Homo sapiens: one gene and its partner. The protein of the gene in region 1 purifies or fractionates together with the protein of each later gene. This does not show direct contact. Each region holds a gene or a part of one and is shown on either strand. Other genes may lie near its edges.

Region 1 (3,500 bases):
TGTTTTATTTTTTCCTTCAGAAAATATTTTATTCAGCTTTCCATAATAGACAAAAGAAAAAATTCTCACTCTACTGTTTATGAAGCATACCACAAATGTTGATACTTTCTGGCTGTTTCAAATCTTTCGTACACAGTTAACCTAAAACTCTTCAAACATCATCTGAATAAATCTCCTCTCTGATCTTTTCACATGGTCCTGCATGTGACACACATCTTCACCAGAGGCATCTTCCTATTCACTTAGCCTTTTGTAAAAACCAAAAATTCTCGTGCTTGACAATACCCCCAACCACTCTAGTTGCATGAGAAGTACCTCAGTTAAAAACTCAAACTCACAGAAAATGTCATTTGCTTTTTGCCCTAAATAATTCTTTTTGTTTTGATGGAAAATCTGCCCTTCTATTAGCCATTAGCCAATTTGGAAAGCAGTCCTGTTGTGGACTGAAAGAAGCTATAACACATCCATGCTACACTTCTCATTTTCCAGACTTTCAAACACCACTCACATAAATATATCTAAATACTTTACATTTACAGCTCAGAATTATGAGCTAGAAAGCAAAAGATGCATAAGCAAAGCAGATCTCACCTTTGCAGAGGTTTCAAACCATCCGGCAAAGCCATGTTCTTTGCAGAATTGGTCCACCTGGGAAGGACTCTGGCTACTGTCCTTGTTCTGGTCACATTTGTTAGCCAAGAGGACAGCAGGGATAGGGCTGCCATTTGGAAGATGAACTTTACTATCCAGATCACTTTTCCATTTTAAGACTGCCTCAAATGTGGAACTTCTTGATATATCAAAGACTACAAAAGCACCAACAGCTTCCTTGTAGTATACTCGGGTCATGTTGCCAAATCGCTCCTGCCCTAGACATAAATATAAGAAAAAATTAAAAACTTGTAATTCAGACAGAGTCTACATTTAGGTATAACCCCTTTTACCCCAAGAGCAACACTATGAACAAATGTCTTCCATTCCACAGCAATATAACCTGGTGTGATTAAGGCTATCCATACAGACCATGACCCATAGAGCAGATGTGTCTGATAATTTGGTTTAAGTACATAATGAATTAGTTTTATGTTCTGTACAACATATTCTCCATAAAAACCAATATGACAATATTTAAAGCTACAAAGTCTGTCATTTATTCCGACTCGTCTCCCCTTAGTCTAAGAGAAGAGAGGCACTAAAGGAAAACATAAAGCTGGAAGTAGAGGAAGAAGAGACAAGAATAGAAGAAATGAAGCCTGCAGGAAGGAGATAAGTGCAGTGGGTAACATGCTAGTCAAATAGATTAGGGCTGGACATGAGATAAAGTAGTTCATGTTCTCAACTCATCTCTCCTTCATATCTCTAGCCCATACCCACTTCTGACTCAATATGCAAGATTTCACCCCTGTAAGTAGTAGATACATGAAAATCTGTTTCAGAACAAAAGGCACAACTGGTTGTGTTGTTACAAGAAGAATCAATTCCAGGGTTCTTCAAATGTCATTGTACTTTTAAAATAATTTATGTCAAACACTTTGGGAAAAATCTGCTTTGTACATTATATAGGACTTTGCAAAGCGTTCTCTTACTATCTGCTATTGTACTAATCTTTGGCATAGGAAAGACCCTTCTTTTCATCTGACAGATGTAACAACAGGAAAATGGATGCTTGGCCAGGATTATAGTGGCACTGACTAAAGAAGACAGGACTAGAATCCAGGTCTTCTGACTCCCACACACCTATAGAAGTGGGATGCTAGCCTTTCTGAACTATCTTGCAGTTGCCTTGACTTAGTTACTGACTACAGTGTGAAGGAAAAATGATTGGCAATCAATGCACATCTAAGATGTATCACTCTGTTCTATGATAAAGACACTTTCTTCTTGAAACACATGAGCAACAGGCTTTATCTACATTTTATTGACACATTTTCTCTGCACAGATGCAAAGATACCCCAAAATATAAAATTCTTCCTTCTCCAAACTCTACAATGCAATATAATTTTATATATTGTTTTAGGGAATAATGGAAGAAGAATAAAACAATGGTCAAACGTGAATGCATAAATTTAAGGTTTGTTTTGTGATGACTCCTCATATGGTTTAACTGAAGCTGTACTGTAATAGTCCAAAGGTCTAAATTTTACTGTAACAAATGGTCACATATGAAACCCTACTATTATGCTCATATTTTATTGTGATGTAAATCTGACCATTATATAGTTCATTGGCTCATAATGCTGACATTTATAAAAACTTACATGATATGCCAACTGTTCAAAATCGCTATTCTGCAGAAAGACTATATGCATTGAAATGATTCAGACTCCAATTTCAAATGCAGTGCACACATTACCAACCACTTCCATTTTTATATATTTTAATTATTGAATATGAAAAGACTAAGCAACAAGATATGACAGTCTTAAATTAGGAAATTGAAAAAGTAAGATTTCAAGATAATTACATGGTAATAAACTATTCCTTTGGACTATATCTTTAATTTAGAAAAGAGAGTGGGGTGACAAATGAGTAAAAGAACAGTTAGAAACCTAGAAGTTAACAAAGAGTTGTTAAACTTTAGTGACTGTTGCTTTTTTTTTTTTTTTTTTGTGAATCATCTGTAAATTTCAAGTATTTCCTTTTACTCGTGCTCATGAAAGATGATAGGAGAGTTGTGAAAAAAAAGACAAAGGGATATTACTAGGTATACTAATCGACAAAGTATAAGATGCAGCAAGGCAATCAGGATCCACATTCTATTTTGGATGGGAATCAAAACAATGTAAAATAAGTTTAGGCATAAATTATATAGTTTATATCTTCCAAGCACACATTTTATGCTTGGGTAAATATTATTTATATGAACTTCAGAGCAGACTGTTCCCAATTTGTCCTTTGGCCCAAAGGAGAGTTACTCATTCAGATTTTTATTAAAAAATGTTGATCCTAAAAAGCAAATCACTCAGTCAATACATGAAGGCTAAAGTATACTAGACCTAAATGGACAAACTTGTTTTTTTAAGATTTAACCTAGACCAGTCTTTCAATTTGCCTGAAAAATGCTATAGTGACTAATAAGCAATAAGCATATAATAGTAAACCAAATACTACTTTACCTACACTGAGCATTAAAAGGAAGATCAGAGACATCTCTTGCTATATCTTGAGTATGCATTTATTAAGATCTCTGTAAAGTGTTATCAAAGACTTCAAGATTTTAGTATATTTCAGTTATGTTTTGAGCAGCAGTCCTAAAGTACGTGTGAGTTAAGAGATGGCAATTGTCTAACACAAAAACTGCACTAAACTGCATCTGTATTTTAAAGCCAGATTCCTTCAATGCCGTAAGAACAGATTTGTGTATCTGAGGATCACAGTGGTTCTTAACCTGAAGAGTTCAGCTGAATCTGCTTAGCTACATGTGTAGAAAACATTTGATAATTCTAGCCTATCATACTTGCCACAGCTTTCAAGCATAGAGATTCGTCATAATTTCTTC
Region 2 (3,500 bases), on another chromosome or scaffold:
CATTATTGGTTCCAGGAGCCTCTGGCTGCTTATCATCACCATCAAAGATAATGTCTTCTGGATTTGGAGGTGGAGGGCAGAATTCTTCAGTTGGAAAGATCTCCTGGAAAAGTGTTTCAGCTTGCTTGACAGCATGCTCATTTCCCAGGCCACAGTCAGGCCCAGAGCAGACATAAACATTGGAAGGCAAGCCATTATACGAGCTTCTGCTGATTCCCGAGGAATCTCTCATATTAAAATAAAGAGCCCACAAGAGTCTTGGCTTTGTAAGTTCTTCCTCGTTTATTTCTGTTTCAGTATACGGAGTGAATAATTTCTTCACCACTGATTCTAAGTCTTCTCTTGCTGTTTTAGAAGATGAACATGTCAAATGTACCAGATAGGTGTCCTTCATGCATGTCATGGTTGAAGAACATAATTCTGTGACCCGTACAGCACAAGCTCCTGGCTCTGCTGGAGGAACTATCAGAATGGAAGTCTGCTGATCTAAATCTGTCTTTAGTATAGACTGATCTGTAATGAGTACTGCCCTAGAGATCTGCTTATACTGCACATTTGAGCATGTTTCCTCAGAAAGGTAACTGTCTTCCACAATAAAATATTTAGCATTTATTCTTTGACCAAAGTGATCTATAATTGCTTTACATCGTCCAGATTCTTTGTCGACTACAAAGCATTGTACTTTATGACGAAGACAATAGATTCCACCAAAAACTGCACACATCCTACAGAAACCCTGGGGAATTTCTCCTTGGCCATACAAGGGAAATAAAAAGGGGGTGTTGCCAAACCGTCCGAGACACTGAAGGAAGTTTTTAGTTGCGTTAAGACCATCTATTGTAGTGCAAGATGATTCTGATGTCATTGCAATTGAGTGCAGTACAAAATGTTGAAGGTTGGGAGTTAGTTTTTTAGTTTTTAAGTATTCTGAAAATGAACACTGCCTGAAAGCTTGGTATTCATCAGGATGTTGTTCATACTCTAAACAAAATGTGAGAAATTTCATTAGCATCCTCTTTTCAACCATGGTGAGTTCCTTGCTATTAAAGACATCTGCTCTGGAACAAGGAACTTGTTCTACCTTTCCTTCCCGAAATGCAAGAATCCTAGTGACATTTTTAAATTCTACATAACGACTAACATCTGATTTGATTAAAAGATCAATTAGCAATCCTTGAGAATACAGCAGTTTTGACACCAAATCAATATTAAACCTCCTGCCTTCTTTAACTATTTGAGAGTAAGTAATCCTATTTCTAATTGGTTCATCGGCCTTATCTTCTACTGTAGATTTGCTTTCATCTTTATCTCCATCTTTATCTGAAACTGTGTGCATACAAGTTTTATCTCCACAATACTTTTCCTTCTCCACTGATTCCTCTACATCAGTTACTTCTAGTGAAATCTCTGTATCACTTTTCTGAGTGTGTTTTGCAGGCATTTCGTCGCTATTAAAATACGATAACTGGCTTTCTTCAGGTAATGCAGAATCCAGAACTTCAGTGAAGGTATTAGACACCCCCAAAGAAGGATTTTTCTGCAGAGCACCAATCTCTTCAACGTTGTCCTCCATATCCTGACTGGCGTAGCAAAAAGCTTCTGTGTGTTGAATAGTTTCATCCTTCTTGCGAAGAGTGATGGCTTCTTCTGTTTCATGGATCAGGTCCTGCCATACAACAGTACTTTCTTCCCCAATGTCATTGTTTTGCTGATACTCCTTCAACCAGGATAGCAATCCTGAAAAGCTGAAACTAGCCCAGTTTCCTCCATAGTAGCTTCTTGAATCAATATGCAGAACCCTCTGACCACTTCTTGAACATGCAGCTGCAAGGATGGATTCGGGCAAACCTGTCCCTATTATAACCACATCAAACTCTGTGGGAAGATTGTCCGCCATTTTAGGAAGTAACAGCGTCTGGTGACAACTGCTGATGAAAGAAATGAGGTGTGATTATGCTGTAATAAAATCTGTCCTTCTGATGTTCCAGTTATCCCAGAAGCACTGAAGTTGCAGGTCCTAGCTGTTTAACGGTTACCCTTTTAAAATATTTTTTTTCTTATAAGTCAGTAGCATAAAAACATGAGCAAGTACATCTAATCACATCTGAGAATACTAAAATGGATGTGTGGTTTCATTTCTGCATTTCATCTTAGCAGTAAATGTCAAAATGCATCATATATGCATTTGTGACTGGAACTCTTCTCTGAAAGAAGAAAATTCAAGAAAGAATACATTGTAAACAATATAAGAGAAAAATAATTTCATGCAACAATGACAATCCATTGGAGTGTGACATCTTATTTGGACATAAACCTCTACTAAAGCATGTCTTAAATGCTTTCTCACATATTTTCTAATTTCTTGAGAATGGACAATAGAGATATAACAGCCCTCCCAAGAATCAGGCAACATAGTAATAGAGAATGAACATAATGTTCCACAAAAATAAAGAAGAAATAACATAATACAATTCTCTAACTTTAGCTTTTAAGAAAACTATCATGTGAATAAATCTATACACAGCTGTGAGCTTAGACTAAAAGGAACGCATGGCTCCACTGTTTATAGAAACAGATTATAAACTATGTGCATACTGCCATGATTCAAAATATTTCTGTGGCCATTACAGTCTATGTGTGATTCCAGAACAGCTGAATATAAGACCTTTCCATGCCACAACCACCCTTAGGATCTCATGGTAGCAACATGAGACTATTTCTACTCAATTACTAGTCAGATTATTACAAAAGGATTAATTCAGTAAAACAACTGGCCATTTAAAAATATTTAGGCTCATAATAGCCCTGAGGAGGAAAATGTATTAAAAATATTATATGAATGTACACATGCATATAAGTAATAAAGGAAAAAAGTGTGTAAGTGTAAGTAAAAAAGGAAAACTTCTGATTTCATATTAAAATATCTTAACATAAATAATACCTACTTCTAACATTTGAATACAGTGATGTTTGCATTTCGCCACTGTCTCTGCAACCCTGAATCTCTGCATCCCAAGCAAAAGGTCTATCTAAACATCCTCTGCCAAGACTAACACTGTTTGTTCTTATTTTTGAAGGGGAAGTTTAAAAAAAAAAAAATAATAAGGTTCTCCTGTTAACTTTGAGCATAATGCTGGTTACATTCCATGTGCGGAAGACATCTGTGTGATGCCCTGTGTGGCCAGAGGTAGAAAGGCCAAGGTGCTGAAGAGCATACTCACCTGAAAGTCTTTAGGCTAAAGCAACAATACTGCTAAACTTTCTAATATTCATCATTGCACAGTTTTGAGCTCTGGTTTTCACTACTGTTAAACCTACTGAAATATAAATCAGTACAAGCTGTACCTGTCTAGCCCAAGATGACTAATAATCCTGGATACTGGAAAAACAAGCCATTCAATTGGAACTTAGATTAAATTGCATAGGGCACACACCTTTAGTTTAACTAAAATGGCAATCCTAACAGTCCTGTCTAGTCAAAGCCTCTGTCTCAAAAATAT

What was found.
Region 2: the proteins of RAB32 (region 1) and CHML purify together in Homo sapiens (affinity purification with mass spectrometry; 4 studies listed by BioGRID and IntAct, with this or other methods). This does not show direct contact.

Annotation. Positions count from the first base shown.
Region 1 is NC_000006.12:146,546,833-146,550,332, reverse strand, and holds part of RAB32 (ras-related protein Rab-32), read right to left. Parts: intron 870-3,500; coding exon 592-869; intron 1-591. UniProt on the Homo sapiens protein: The small GTPases Rab are key regulators of intracellular membrane trafficking, from the formation of transport vesicles to their fusion with membranes.
Region 2 is NC_000001.11:241,633,870-241,637,369, forward strand, and holds part of CHML (rab proteins geranylgeranyltransferase component A 2), read right to left. Parts: intron 2,326-3,500; exon of another isoform or gene 2,205-2,325; coding exon of another isoform or gene 2,164-2,204; 5' UTR 1,929-2,163; coding exon of another isoform or gene 1,898-1,928; coding exon 1-1,897. UniProt on the Homo sapiens protein: Substrate-binding subunit (component A) of the Rab geranylgeranyltransferase (GGTase) complex. Binds unprenylated Rab proteins and presents the substrate peptide to the catalytic component B.